Linked DNA regions of Homo sapiens: region 1 is linked to region 2. The links come from fine-mapping of genetic effects on gene expression. Tissue or cell type: whole blood. Region 2 holds a variant in brackets; the other region holds the start of a gene. All regions are shown on one strand. Distances are between the middles of the regions.

What was found. PIP is the estimated chance that this variant, and not a neighbour inherited with it, causes the effect.
Region 1: TBC1D31 starts here. The variant in region 2 is fine-mapped to the expression of TBC1D31 in whole blood (TOPMed, PIP above 0.99). The same link has a PIP of 0.9 or more in blood mononuclear cells.

What each region holds. Positions count from the first base shown.
Region 1 is chr8:123,068,277-123,076,384 of GRCh38, forward strand. It overlaps TBC1D31 (TBC1 domain family member 31), which reads left to right and starts at 4,431. Exons shown (of 22, transcript NM_145647.4): 1 at 4,431-4,570. The coding sequence starts at 4,494. RefSeq lists a silencer at 4,334-4,483.
Region 2 is chr8:123,124,706-123,132,813 of GRCh38, forward strand. TBC1D31 (TBC1 domain family member 31) reads left to right here. Exons shown (of 22, transcript NM_145647.4): 12 at 1,351-1,484; 13 at 1,803-1,982; 14 at 3,576-3,808; 15 at 4,361-4,513; 16 at 5,493-5,628. Among named protein-coding and RNA genes, the nearest start is that of TRM-CAT1-1, 29 kb to the right of the region's middle. The variant C/A (reference allele first, on the strand shown) is at 4,395.

The DNA of each region.
Region 1 (8,108 bases), 56 kb before region 2:
TCTAGGGTTTATCCAAGACAAATGAAAGCACACGTTCATACTAAGACTTGCATAAGAACATTCACAGCAGTGTTATTCGGAATAGCCAAAAACTGCAAACAACTCCAGTGTTCATCACCAGGTGGATCAGATGGATGGATAAACAAATTGTTGTATATTGGGCCAGGCATGGTGGCACACACCTGTAATCCCAGCACTTTGGGAGGCTGAGGTTGGTGGATAGCTTGAGCTCAGGAGTTTAAGACCAGCCTGGGCAACACAGTGAGACCCTGTCTCTACAAAAAATACAAAAGATTAGGCAGGTGTGACACCTGTAGTCCCAGCTACTCAGGAGGCTGAGGTGGGAGGATCCCTTGAGCCTGGGAGGTCAAGGTTGCAGTGAGTCATGGTCATGCCACTGCACTCGTGTCTGGGCAACAGAATGAGACCCTGTCTCAAAAAAAAAATTGTGGTATATTGATGTATTAGTCCATTTTCACTTTGCTTTAAAGACATACCCAAGAGTTGGTAATTTACAAAGAAAAGAGGTTTATTTGACTCACAGTTCCACAGGGCTGGAGAGGCCTCAGGAAACTTATAATCATGGTGGAAGGGGAACAGGTACATCTTACATGGCAGCAGGCAAGAGAGAGTGTTACGTGAAGGGGATAGAGCCCCTTATAAAACCATCAGATCTTGTGAGAACTCACTCACTATCATGAGAACAGCATGGGGGAAGCTGCCCCTCTGATCCATCCAATCACCTCCCACCTGGTCCCACCCTTGACATGTGGGGATTACAATTCGTGATGAGATTTGGGTGGGGACAAAAACCCAAACCATATCAATTGATGCCATAAAAAAGAATAACTACTGATACATACAAAAACACAATTGAATCTCAAAATAATCTCAAATTTATGATGAATGAAAGAAACCAGACCAACAAAAAAAAAGGAAAGACACCAAAGTACAATACATACACGTAGTCTATGAATCCATTTATATAAATTTCTAGAAAATGTTAACTAAAGAAAGGAAAACAGATCGGTGGTTGCTCATGGGCAAAGTGGGGTGGGAGTCGAAAGGTTACAAAGAGAGATGAGGAAACTTTTAGGGATGATGGATGTTTTCATTATCTTGATTATAGTGATGGTTTCATGGGGGGGTTAGCTACCTAAAAACTTATAAAACTGTACACTTTAAATATGTAAAGTTTATTGAATGTCAATTATTTCTCAGTAAAACTGTTTATATGTATATACTTGGAACACTAATTGGTAGTCCCTTCTGCTCTAGTTCCTTTCTGAATCATTAGTCACTCAATAACAGGTACATATGTGTATATATAATATATATATGTATATATGTACATACTGTTTATATATGTACATACTATTTATATAGTACATACTATTTATATGTACATAAATATATATAAAGGTACATATTATTTGTGTGTGTATGTATTTATATATATACACACATAAATATATATAGGCTAGGTGCAGTGGCTCACACTTGTATTCCCAGCACTTTGGGAGGCCGAGGTGGGTGGATCACTTGAGGTCAGGATTTCGAGACCAGCCTGGCCAACATGGTGAAACCCCATCTCTACTAAAAAAAAAAAAAAAAATACAAAAATTAGCTGGGCGTGGTGGCGCAAGCATGTAATCCCAGTTACTTGGGAGACTGAGGCAGGAGAATCACTTGAACCTGGGAGGCAGAGGTTGCAGTGAGCTGAGATCACGCCACTGCACTCCAGCCTGGGCAACAGAGCAAGACTCCATCTCAAACAAACAAACAAACAAATGTATAAAGGTCCATACTGTGTACCTTTATAAATACATATGAAAGTACATATAAATAGTATACCTTTACACTATACAAAGGTATACTGTATACTAAAGGTATATTTATATATAAATAGGTATATAGTATACCTTTATATATAAATAGGTATGTAGTATACCTTTATATATAAAGGTATAAAGTATAGGTATATAGTATACCATATATATAATAGGTATATAGGTATACTTATACTATATACTTTTATACATATAGATACCTTTATATATGTATATATATTTTATATATATAACATATGTGTGTGTGTATGTATATATATATATATATATATATATATATATATATATATATATATATAAAAATAGTATGTACCTGTTACTGAGTGACTAATGATTCAGAAAGGAACTAGAACATAAGGGACTACCAATTAGTGTTGTAAGTGTATACATGTGTGTGTGTATATCCATATATATACATTTGGATATCCAAATATATATGTATATATATTTATCTGTACATTATTTATCTGTATATATACAGATAGATACATATAAATAGTATGTACCTGTTATTGAGTGACTAATAATTCAGAAAGGAACTAGATCACAAGAGACTACCAATTAGTGTTGTAAAAACTGGGAGATCTAATGAGTAGAACTTTAGCAGCTGTGGGTACACATCTCTTCAGCCTGACCTTCAAATTGTGCCCCCTAAATCAAAAGATAAGTACAAAGTGGGAGTCCAGAAGATCTAACATATAAACCTCTTTATCACATATCTGAGATTGAATAGGATGGCCACATGGGCTGAGACAGCCCAAACTAGCTTAGCTGCAGACAGGTTAAGCTAGAGAAGTTAAGAAAATCATTCAGCAGATTCATCTTTGCTTCCGATAAAAAAAGGTTGTTTGGTTAATGGTGTGGGATAGAAATGTTGTGAAATAATCTGTTTCAGGTTAGGCACTGTATCTTAAATTTAAGATTCTAAGTTTCCTAAATAATAATGCAAACATTGATACATGTAGTTTATCTCCATCTCAAAACCAATAAATAAAAATAAGAGCTGCAGTTGCTTCCTCTGCAATAGGTCATTACAAGTTGTCTGATCTCTCAGAGCCACCCCTTGATAACAACATAAAGTTTAAAAACCTGCATTAGTATTTTTTTTGAGAATTTGCTTTTCTGATCAAGAGTTTGAACTTTTCAAATACCACGACCATATAATTTTTTTAACATCATTTTTCTGTTGTAGAACAACATAGAGACTAGGAATGGAAAGATTTAAGGTTTCCTTGTCTGCAAAAGTGGATAATATTAGTACTTACCTGTAACAGGTTGATTGGTGGCCCCCCAAAATATATGTCAACATACTAATCCCAAAATCCGTGACTGTTACCTTACTTGGAAAAAGGGTCTTTGCAGATGTAATCAAGTTAAGGATTTTGAGATGAAAAGATCATCCTGTATTCCTGTATTATTCATATGGACCCAATGACAAGTTTCCTTATAAGAGAAAAACAGAGGGAGATTTGAAACAGACAGAAGAGGAAAAGATACATCCAGGAGGAGAAAGACGTGTGAAGATGGAAGCGGAGAATGGAGCGATGCGATCACAAGCAGAGAACGCCAGCAACTCCCAGAAACTGGAATAGACAAGTAAGGGAATCTTGCTTAGAGCCTGAAAGGAGGCTGCAGACACTTTGATTTCCGATGTATGGCCTCAAGAACTTCCCAAGAATACATTTCTGTTTTTTTATGTCACCAAGTTTGTGGTAATTTGTGAGGGCAGCCTCAGGAAATTAATGCACAACCTCATAGAGCACTAAAAATGGAGATAATTAGTACTACCTAACTTGTAAATTTGCTACGAGGATTAATTGAGTTGATATATTCGGTATAGTAGAAAAGTGCCCCATACCTAGTAAGCGCTCCGGAGGCACTAAGTGAATTTTTATCAAAGGAACGCTAAAGTCGAGGCAGCCAGTTGTTGATATTATTGCTTTTCTGGACCATGATTGGTGGACTGGACATCATAATGCTGGAAGGCCTGTCAGATTACGAAACTGAAGAAACGAAACAAAACCATGAGGATGGTGAAAAGGTCAGGAAGAATGAACTATTTCATCTGTAAGTTTCATTTGAGCCCGAACGTTCTATGAAAGGAACCCATCAGTTCTCAATGTATTTGTCTCCTTGCTTCTCTGCACTTGTTTCCTTGCTTCTCTTAGTTATTTCTATACAATTCCTTAATCCCTAAAAGCAATTTAGAACGGAATGCAGGGACCACAGGAGAAAATGAGTTTTATTGCCTCTGATGGGAGCCTAAAACCCCACGAGGCTCCCAAAGGGCGGAATTCCCAAGCCAATTCCTCGCGTCTATGATCCACCTGCAAAAAACTACGATTCCCAGAAGGCTTTGGGTCCGGGGGCGGGAAGACTGAGCTCAGAAAGAGGTGGACTCTAAGAGAAGGTCTTTGGTCGATTACATTGTCCAGAGAGGGAGTGGCCGCTTGGGCGGATTTTGGGAGGGATCAGCCTTCCAATTGGTTGTTATTAGAAAGGGGGTTGGTACGGCCTGCTGGTGCTGGACCTAGGCCGCCGCGGCCGGAGCTCAAATTTCCCGGGCCGGGAGCGCTGGGCCTGCCGGGAAGGCGCTGGGACGGTTACCCAGCGGGCCGCCGGCGGTCGTGGGCAAGCTTCGCCATGCAGAGCACTGACCTAGGCAACAAGGAGAGCGGCAAGATATGGCACCGCAAGCCGTCCCCGGCCACGCGGGACGGGTAAAGGCCGTGGCGGGAGGGCGCGGGCTGTGGAGGGGATGGAGACCGGCGAGGAGGGGACGCCGGGCGTCAGGCAGCGTTCCGGGTTCTGGCTCTGACCTTGCCCCGCATCCCTGGGTTGGATGACCTGCGGTGGAACAGATGGCTCCGGACGCCAGGGTCCGCAGAGATCCCCTTCTGAGTTCTGGGAGCGGGGGTCTGGTCCGGGACAGCGCGGAGCAGGAGGAGGCCGGTGGTTCTCAGACCTGGGAACTTGCGGCTTTTGCTGTGTACCGGGACTCTCCTGCTTTTATGATCACGGTATCCCGCTAGTGTCCCTGGCACGTAGTAGGTGCTCAGTGAGTATTTAACAGTTGCAGCTGGAGCAGAACTCCAGGAGGAGATGCGGGGTGGAAGAGCAGGACAATTCTGCCTCTTCCAAAGGCTGCAGTTTATCCATCCTTAAATCCTTGGATGTGTTTAGACGCACAAGCATTCATCAACTATTTGTTGAGCTCCTACTGTGTGCCAAGCACGCCTCTAAGCGCTGGGGACGGCGATGGAACAAAACACACTTCCGGTTCTCTGGAGTTTACATATCGGCGTGTATGTAGGGGCTGGGGCGTTCATTATGCATTGCTGGGGGGCTTCTAGTACGGCCAGCGCTGCTTTTCATTCTGTTCCCAGTTACCTGTCCTGTTTGAGGCTCAGCCTGTCTTGTTTCCCTGGAAGCCTTTGCTACAAAGCGGTGCCATTTGGATTTCGATTTCTGCACGCAGAGTGATCTTATTGCTCCTAATTCCCTAGGATTTCACGGAAATTGCTTGAGTTCCTGTTTCAGTGTGTTTCTTGTTCTAGCAGTGATTTTTCTTTTCTTTGAGACGGAGTCTTGCTCTGTCGCCTGGGCTGGGGTGCAGTGGCGCGACCTCGGCTCACTGCATCCTCCACCTCCCGAGTTAAAGCGATTCTCTTGCCTCAGCCTCCTAAGTAGCTGGGATTACTGGCGCGCGCCACTACGCCCGGCTAATTTTTGTATTTTTAGTAGAGACGGGGTTTCACCATGTTGGCCAGGCTGGTCTTGAACTCCTGGCCTCAGGTGATCCGCCTGTCTCAGTCTCCCAACGTGCAGGGATTACAGGCCTGAGCCACCGCGCCCGGCCTCTAGTGATTTTTCTATTGATCCTTTGGTTGCTTCTTGACAAATCAGAATTTTTTTTTTCTCTTGAGACAGAGTCTTGCTCTGTTGCCCAGGGTCGGATGCAGTGGCGCGATCTCGGCTCACTGCAACCTCCGCCTCCCGGGTTCAAGCGATTCTCCTGCCGCAGCCTCCTGAGTAGCTGGGATTACAGGCGCACCACTCCCGGCTAATTTTTTGTATTTTTAGTAGAGACGGACCGTGTTAGCCAGGATGGTCTTGATCTCCTGATGTCGTGATCCACCCACCTTGGCCTCCCGAAGTACTGGGATTACAGGCGTAAGCCACCGCGCCTGGCCGACAAATCAGTTTTAAGTGCCTACTCTGTATATCCAAAGTGCGATGCGAGACGTTTTACCAGCAGCTTGTTTGGTTCCTGGTTACTGTCAGGCCTCTTTATCAATGCCGCTGCCTCAACTACATTGAATAAAAAATTTTCTCTAAAGTGGGGATTCCTCAAGTTTTTCATTTTCAAATTCTGAGTTTGTGTGAATACCACTCCCACCTCTGGTATTCTCTAAACATTCTAAAAGTTATAGCCCACTCGCCTTCTCTTTCTTGATGATACAAAATATCTAGATATATGTGCAAGATTCAAAAAGTGAAAGAAATGGGTTGATTATCCAAATGTCTTGTTTGCTTCTTCCACTAAAGCATAGCTTATCTTTGTGTTCGTTAAAACCCATTGTTCATGCTGTTTAGACGGGCAGAGAGCACTGACTTGGAGTCAGATGTATTTTGTTGAAGTAAATGTCCGTTTACCAACTCTGTGACCTTGGGGAAGTTAATCACTAAGGCTGTCAGTGGGGAGAATCAGATTTACCAGACAGGTTGTCTTACACATTTGGTGCTCAGTAAATATTTGATATTCTTCTTGTGTTTGAGAACTGAGGAACTCTGTCAGGCAATCTGTGAGAATCTGAAAGGAAGTTGCTCTAAAATAAATTTTTTACGTGTGATTTATATGAAAAATCGGAGGGGCAGAATGTCACTATTGTGATTACATCTACATGGTAGGATTATAATTGAGTATTTGTTTCTTAGTGTATTTCTATATTTTTCATATTTTGAACAATGATTGTGTAATTTTGTAGCCAGAACATGTAATAAGTGTTCTAGAAAATAAGACTGGAGGAAAAAGTTGTTTGCTCTGAGTTTAGTTGCCATGAAACATTTTGATATTGCTTGTCATTTCTGTATGTTTATTTTTGTGTTTTTAATTCCTTGGGGACTAGATAAAAATAAGCATTGTTAAGAATTTTGCTATTTCCTTTAGTGAGTCTAAAAAGCCTTATGTTTAGATACACATGGAGAAAATGTTTAATCCACTTAATTCAATTTAGTATACTTTAATGAAATTATAATGAAGATAGATGTTTCTAATATAAAATCCAAAAACTAGGCAAGGTGCAGTGGCTCACGCCTGTAATTCCAGCACTTTGGGAGGCCAAGGTGGGAGGATCACGAGGTCAAAAGTTTGAGACCAGCCTGGCCAACATGGTGAAACCTTGTCTCTACTAAAAATACAAAAAATTAGCTGGGCATGGTAGCGTGCACCTGTAATCCCAGCTACTCAGGAGGCTGAGGCAGGAGAATCACTTGAACCCAGGAGGTGGAGATTGCAGTGAGCCGAGATTGCACCACTGCACTCTAGCCTGGGTGACAGAGCGAGACTCCATCTCAAAAAAAAAAATAAAACAAAATCCAAAAATTTATGAAAAATCAATTAAGATAAAATTTTCATGATTAAAAACTATTGTTGCAATAAAGAATGGGATTATTCTGATCTTTGTGACGAGAATATACGCACATATATTATTTTAAGGAGTTATTTTGTGCTGTAAGTTAATTTTATAAATTTTCTTTCAACAGATACAGGGTATATAATCCTTCTCTCAAAAAGGGTAACTTTAAACACATGTATTCTTGTCTTTCCTGTTATGAAAATAGTATGTAATCATTAAATAACATGTCTAAAAGATAGAAAAGTAGAAAGGGGAAAAAAATTAACCATATTGCTATTACCTGCAGACAGCTGCTGTTAATATTTAGCTGTATTCATCTTTTTTTCCCTATACGTATTTTTCTTTTCCTTTGGAGACAGGGTCTTACAGTGTCACCCAGGCAGGAGTGCGGTGGCATGATCATGGCTCACTGAAGCCTTGACCTCCCCAGGCTCTAGTGATAATGCCACCTCAGACTCCTGAGTAACTGGGATCACAGGCACATGCACCATGCCTGGCTAATTTTTTGAAATTTTTCTGGAGACGTGTTTGGTTTTGATTTTTCTTCTTTATTTTTTCTTTTAATTGTGTGTATGTGTGTGTGTGTGTGTGTGTGTGTGTGTATCAGTGTTTAAAACTT
Region 2 (8,108 bases):
TCAACTGAGGTCAGGGGTTCGAGACCAAACTGGCCAACATAGTGAAACCCTGTCTCTACTGAAAATACAAAAAAAAAAAAAATGAGCTGGGCATGGTGGTAGGTGCCTCTAATCCCAGCTAATTGGGAGGCTGAGACAAGATAATCACTTGAACCCGGGAGGCAGAGGTTGCAATGAGCCGAGATCGCGCCACTGCACTCCAGCCTGGGCCACAGAGTGAGACTCCGTCTCACAAAAAAAAAAAAAAAAAATTAAGAGCTACAGAGAATTTGAAATATTTTTTAAAGCTCAGTCTTTGCAAGATTTTATTTCTGACTTCATTATTAACTCAAATTTAAATAATCAATAATAAGTGAAATAATGGAACTCCAGAATTGGAAAGTTCTTATAAACCACTGTAATCTAATATTCTGCTGATAAAGCCTTCTTTTGCTATTTTGAGATAGGAGATCTTATTATCAAAGGATGAATCTACAACTCAATATTTAAAATTAAAAAAATTTTAAAATTAAGTTAAACATAGTCTTATTGAACAAAACAAACCGATGGTCTTATATACGGCTTTGAGAACAATCTGTGGGTCGTTCTACTGATTACAGAGTGCAAGTGAGTCAAAGTCAGCCTTAGAGTTAGTTGAATATATTCTACTTTGGACTAACTGACTTTCAAAGAATGCCACTGTTACCGATTGGTTGGTTTTCAAGTCAAGTTTACTGAAACAAGTTGTCAATGATCAGTTAGATATAAAACCAGTCCTGGTGGCTATTCCTGGTTATTCCTTATTACCATGCTTATAGAACAATCAGTCTTTTCCTCAGAATGAGGACATTTTTATTGTCATTATAATGTTTAAGGGATTAGGGATACAGTATATACACATTTGTTTTTATATATTGCTGATGTAATTTTGAACATTTTCCTTAAGTTTTCTAATTTTGATTACATGTGAATTTTAGTAGATTTGAGGAGATTGGCATGCTAATGTTGATTACATTTAATGAAGGGTTAAATAGGGGCCCTTTTTAAAAAGATCATTTCGTTAATCAGGTGATGAACAAAGCAGGAGTCAGGAGCCAGAATGCCATCAGGAGTACTTTGGGAAGTTGTGATTGTTTGTTTTAATTAACACTTTTTCATTGACTACTGTAAGGAAATTTGCAAAATTTCTGTAAACATACTATGTTAACATGATAGGATTTTAAAATCGATTGTCATACAATATAAAGAGTTTTTTTTTATTATTCATGGACATATTGAGAACATAAAGATTGGATACATTTAAGAATTGCAAAGAGTTTTGATAACATGGAAAGATATTTAAAGATATGTTTTCTTTTTTTTCCTTCATAGTCAATTGGTGTCAACACTGGTTTGAATATTTTCCTAATCCTCCTATCAATATTCTTAGCATGATAGAAAATGTTTTGGCATTTCATGACAAGGAACTGCTGCAACACTTCATAGATCATGATATAACCTCCCAGGTAAGAAGCATAAGGTTTTTAGAATAACATGCCTTATTTTGTAAGCTAACATTGGTTCTGGTATAAACAGTCTTTTCTTGAAGGAGTATAATAAAAAGCATACTACATGTTGTATTTTTAACAGTATTCCATTCTTTTTCTTCATTAAACTGCCTTCCTGAAAGTCTGTAAAGAAGGGTCCAAATTAAGGTAGTTATTTTCATAATTATGTATTTAATATGATTTTCATAGCTTAAATCGAATGTAAGGGAATATTACCAATGACTCCCTTTTTACTTTTCCCTAGAAAAATAATAAATTTTTCCTTATCTGTTTTAGCTATATGCATGGCCTCTTCTTGAAACTGTGTTCTCAGAAGTGCTGACAAGAGAGGAGTGGCTGAAATTGTTCGATAATATCTTTTCCAACCATCCTTCCTTCCTTCTGATGACTGTTGTAGCCTACAACATATGTTCTAGAACGCCTCTGCTCAGCTGTAATCTTAAAGATGACTTTGAGGTAACGGTCCTTGTTCTTAAGAGAAGGTTCTCAAATATCAGTTATTTCTCTCTATTTTTTTTTTAATTTTTTGAGACAGAGTCTCGCTATGTTGCCCAGGCTGGAGTGCAATGGCGCGATCTCAGCTCACTGCAACCTCCGCCTCCCAAGTTCAAGCGATTCTCCTGCCTCAGCCTCCTGAGTAGCTGGGATTACAGGTGCGCACCATCATGCCCAGCTAATTTTTGTATTTTTAGTAGAGATGGGGTTTCACCATGCTGTCAGGGTGGTCTCAAACTCCTGACCTCGTGATCCACCCACCTCGGCCTCCCAAAGTGCTGGGATTATAGGCGTGAGCCACAGTGCCAGGCCATATCAGTTATTTCAATTGAAAAATCCATTTATTTATTGAGTCCCTGTTATATGTCAGACACTGGTGCTAGGTAGTAGGAATATAAAGGATAACAAGTTAGACCACATCCCTACCTGTGTACAGTTTATAGACAATAAAGTAGGCAATTATAGCAGGCTAGTAGTCTTATAATCATAGCTTAAGAAAAGAATCATGATAATATTGGGGTTTGTGCTTTTTGCATTTTTTTTTTTTTTTTTTTTTTTTTTGGAGACAGAGTCTCGCTCTGTTGCCCAGGCTGGAGTGCAATGGCACAGTCCCGGTTCACTGCAACCTCTGCCTCCCGGGTTCAAGAGATTCTCCTGCCTCAGCCTCCCGAGTAGCTGGGATTACAGGTGCCCGCCACCACGCCCAGCTAAGTTTTTTATATTTTTAATAGAGACAGGATTTCACTAGGTTACCCAGGCTGGTCTCGAACCCCTTACCTCAGATGATCCACCTGCCTCGGCCTCCCAAAGTGCTGGGATTACAGGCATGAGCCACCACGCCCGGCTGCTTCTTGCTTTTATAAAGGATGTTTAACAGGTTATTCTGTTATTCTGTGCATAATCTTATCATGACCCATCTGGTCTTAGAGGGTCTGAATGCTTATTACACATGCAAAAGGTAACTATGAGAGTTTTGAGACTTGGCAGGAAAGTGTCTGAAAGAAAGCATTAAGATCATTATAAAAAGTAGACGCTCTTTTGGTAGACAAGATGAATTAGTTGGGTTCTTGTGTGTGTGTGTATGTGTTACTTATTTAGTGGTTACTGTCCAATTAAACTTTATTTTTACTTCATGATCCTGTGATACATTAATTTGGATCTTCCAGCAAAACAAGATAATGTGGAAACTTTTTAGATATTTTTAAAGAAGCAAGCTAATTTATTTTCAAAGGCTAATTTATAATTTATTTTGGATTTTGAAGAAAAAAAAAATCCAAGCAGAGTTTGTTCCATTGTTGAAGCATTCTTTTTCTATTGTAAGAAAAGCCTTCATTTTTTAATTTTATGTCAGAATTTCTTATGATTGTGAAACTCTTACATTTTTTAAATAAATTGTCTTTGTTGTAAAACTTGAGTAAAGAAAAGCTTTAATGAATTTGCAAAAAAATATATATTCTTAAAGATAGATACACTTTTTTTAAATTCTTGTTTTAATTCTACCTCATAATTGCTTTGTCAGGTAAATCTCGATTTAAACACCAAGTTTTCTTACAGTTTTTTTTTCACCATCGGAATAACCTGGATATAAATGTTGTGATTAGACAAGTTTATCATCTCATGGAGACCACGCCTACTGACATTCATCCAGACAGCATGCTTAATGTTTTTGTTGCACTGACAAAAGGGCAGTATCCAGTATTTAATCAATATCCAAAGTTTATTGTGGACTATCAAACACAGGAACGAGAAAGAATAAGGAATGATGAATTGGATTACTTAAGAGAGAGGTAATTATGGAATAGTTTTTCTTTTTCTGATACAATGAAATATGTTATAAACATAAGAAAGTTTTAATGAAAAATACATTTGGCTGAGCGCGGTGGCTCACGCCTATAGTCCCAGCACTTTGGGAGGCCAAGGCAGGTAGATCACAAGGTCAGGAGTTCGAGACCAGCCTGGCCAACATGGTGAAACCCCGTCTCTACTAAAGATACAAAAAATTAGCCAGGCATGGTGGCACGCCCCTGTAGTCCCAGCTACTCAGGAAGCTGAGGCAGGAGAATCACTTGAACCCAGGAGGAGGAGGTTGCAGTGAGCGGAGATCATGCCATTGCACTCCAGCCTGGGCGACAGAGTGAGACTTCATCTCAAAAAAAAAAAAATGCATTTAAATTATGAGTATTTGTGTAAAATCAGAGTTTGAAGGCTAGAAATATTAAAGATAGTTAATTCTTGCATATGGAAATAAAATAGATTATACATTAATCGGTATACATTTTGTGTTTTGATGATTCTTAGCTTTCTTCTTTGTGTTTTCATAATAATATTACCTACTTAAGGCAGACAGTTGAAGATATGCAAGCTAAAGTCGAC[C/A]AGCAAAGAGTTGAAGATGAAGCTTGGTACCAGAAACAGGAGCTGCTTCGTAAAGCTGAAGAAACAAGAAGAGAAATGCTCTTACAAGAGGAGGAGAAAATGATACAACAAAGACAGAGGTATGTGTTATCACTTTAAAAAAAAATCTGGACATATAAGTTAGTTGAATAATTTTTATGTTCTTTCATTTTTTCATTTTAGAAACAACATTATATATAGGATTACCCAGCTGTAGCATTTCTATAAAGCAACTATTAAGTTAATAAAAAGAATCTTTATATACCACTTTTCAAAAAAAATTGCTATGTAGTAAAATGTAATTCTGAAGCTATGCTGAATATAATATAGCTTTGCATGGATTAATGTTCCTTGAAGGACATTATTTAGAAACATTATTCTATAGTGGGCAGAAATGCTTTGTAATAGAATGCTAGGTACATCACCTTTAGTAGAGTATAATTTTTTTAATTGTGTTTTAAACATACCTGTGTGACCTGACAGTTGTAACATAGAATGATTATGTCATTACCCATTTAACACTTTGGAGGACAGGGGAATGAGTATTAAATGCGTATTCAAAAGTACGTTAGCTGGGTGTGGTGCCACATACCTATAGTCCCAGCTACTAGGTAGGATCACTTGAGCCCAGGAGGTCAAGGCCAGCCTGGGCAACATAGTGAGACCCTGTCTCTTAAAAAATAAAAAGAAAAAACTTAAAAATAAATACATAAAAGTATGTTAATAAGGTAAAATGTGTAAATTAAGTAAAGTAATGGGATAAACATTGAGACTAAGCCCAATAGTTGGGAAACTCACTTCTGTGTTTATTGATTCCTATTCTTAGATGGAACTTTATGTAACAGATTTATAGTGTGGGTTAAAAGGAATTACTGAACTGAGCCAGTGAGCTTTCTACTAAAATTCTTAAAGCATAAGTATACATCATCTTTGGTAACGGTGGAGCAGTTCTCGCATTCTTCTTTCAAATAAAGGATATCAATTGTATTGAAATGATCAGCATGGCAGACCTGTTATGAAAAAACTAAATCATATTAGGAATTGCTGTATTTGTTCCACTTGATGTATTTTGTATTTAAGGCTAGCTGCTGTGAAAAGAGAGCTGAAAGTAAAGGAAATGCACTTACAAGATGCTGCAAGAAGGCGTTTTCTGAAGCTTCAGCAAGATCAACAGGAAATGGAACTAAGAAGACTGGATGATGAAATTGGGAGAAAGGTTTATTATTCTTAACTTAGTTCTCATACATCATCTCCATTTACTCTCACTTAAATGTAATGAACACCTTCAAATTAAATAATATTCTTAGAGTCCACCATGAATACTAAATAGCCGCTTTAATTTTATTTACTTTTCCCCTCAGCTTTCTCATTCTCTTTTGTATTTCATGAATGGCTAAATATTTAAGAAATGCCAGGAAAATTAGTCAAGTGTCCTTGGTGACTATTTCTCTAAAACTAGAAATATCAGTATCAGTTAGCCATTAAGTTATTTTTTCTTTTCTTTTCTTTTTTTTTTTTTTTTGAGACAGAGTCTTGCTCTGTTGCCCAGGCTGGAGTGCAGTGGCGTGACCTCAGCTCAGTGCAACCTCCGCCTCCCGGGTTCAAGTGATTCTCCTGCCTCAGCCTCCCAAGTAGCTGGGATTACAGGTGCACGCCACCACACCCAGCTAATTTTTGTATTTTTCTTAGAGACGGGATTTCATCATGTTGGCTAGGCTGATCTCAAACTCGTGACCTCAGGTGATCTGCCCACCTTGGCCTCCCAAAGTGCTGGGGTTACAGGCGTGAGCCACCAAGCCCGGCAGTTAATTTTTAATTAGGGGACATATTCTTTTTTCATATAAAAATTATCTGTGGCCAGTATAAAAATAATTTCCAGTACAAAACATACAGAATTAAAAATTGACCTTCTCCATTAGTTCTCATGTCATCCCCAGAGAAACACTATTAAAAAATGGTTAATTGGCTGGGTGCGGTGGCTCATGCCCGTAATCCCAGCACTTTGGGAGGCCGAGGCAGGCAGATCACCTGAGGTCAGGAGTTCGGAACCAGCCTGGCCAACATGGTGAAACCCTGTCTCTACTAAAAATACAAGAATTAGCTGGGCATGGTGGCAGGCGCTTGTAATCCCAGCTACGCAGGAGGCTGAGGCAGGAGAATTGCTTGACCCTGGGAGGTGGATGCTGCAGTGAGCCGAGATCATGCCACTGCACTCCAGCCTGAGCGACAGAGTGAGACTCAGTCTCAAAAAAAAAAAAAAAAAAAAAAAGGTTAATTACATAGACTTTCAGGTATGTTCTATAGATAGAGGAGTAATTATAGTCATGTTTTCCTATATTTATACAAAAATGGGATTATTCTCATTATACATTGTTTTTGTAACCTGCTTTTTAAAATTTCATATGCTGAATATCTTTTCATATTTGTTATATGTGTATCTATTTCTCTTTTTGTGGTTGTATAATATTCCATTGAATTAATAGCTTATTTAATCCTTTGCTATTGGACATTTCGGTTATTTGCAGTGTTTTGCAAATTACAAAACCATGCTACATTGTAAAAGTCTTTGAGTACTTGCACACATACTTTTGTTGAGTAACTTCTAAATTATGACAAATTGTTCTCTAAAAATGAAACAGTTTCAGCTGTTTTAAGTCTGTAAGAGTACCCACTCCCTAGTATAGTCAATTGTACTGCATCAGTCTTAATATTTGCCAAGCAGATAGATGACAAATCGTCTATTTTAATTTGCCTTTTTTTATTGTTAGTGAGGTTAAGTATCTTTTCTGTTACTTATCTTCCATGTGTAGAATTACACATTACATATTTGTATCATTTGTCCATCTTTTTGTCAAGTTAGACTTAACTTTCTGTCAGGTTAGCTTACTTATTTCCAAAAGGCAAGTCAATTGTCCCAACACCATTTGTTGACTATTATCCAAGTCATTTGCCAACTGATGGTTTTTACATATTAAATTCTCTTACATATTTGATCTCCTTCCTCGCTTTTTCTATTCCTAAGCCAGTACCACACTGTTTGAATGACAGTAGCTTTGAAGTGTTTTACCAACTAGGCCTAGTTCTCACTCATTAGTCTTCCTTTTCAGAGTTTTCCTCAGTATTCTCAAATGTTTATCATTCCAAGTAGACTCTAAGAATTGTTTCACTTTTGGAATTCTCACCTCTCCCAATCCTATTGGAATTTTTATTAGGATTACACTGACTTTATGCACTAATTTAGAGTTTCAAGCCTAGTTTTGATAAAATACTAAGTATTTTTTAAGTCTTTTTTTTTTTTTTTTTTTTTTTTTTTTGAGACAGGGTCTCATTCTGTCACCTGGGCTGGAGTACAGTGGTGCGATCCCGGCTCACTGCAACCTCCACCTCCCGGATTCAAGCAATTCTCATGCCTCAGCCTCCTGAGCAGATGGGATTACAGGTGCCTGCCACAACACCCATCTAATTTTTGTATTTTTAGTAGAGACAGGGTTTCACCATGTTGGTCAGGCTGATCTTCAACTCCTGACTTCAAGTGGTCTGCCCACCTTGGCCTCCCAAAGTGCTGGGATTACAGGCACCTGGCCTAAGTCTTTCAAAGTATTTTTAATTCAATAGTATTAGAAATCTATCATCTCTTTATAGCATGATACTTCTTGTTTTGTTTAAAGCTTGTTAATTTTAAATTGGTTTTCAAAA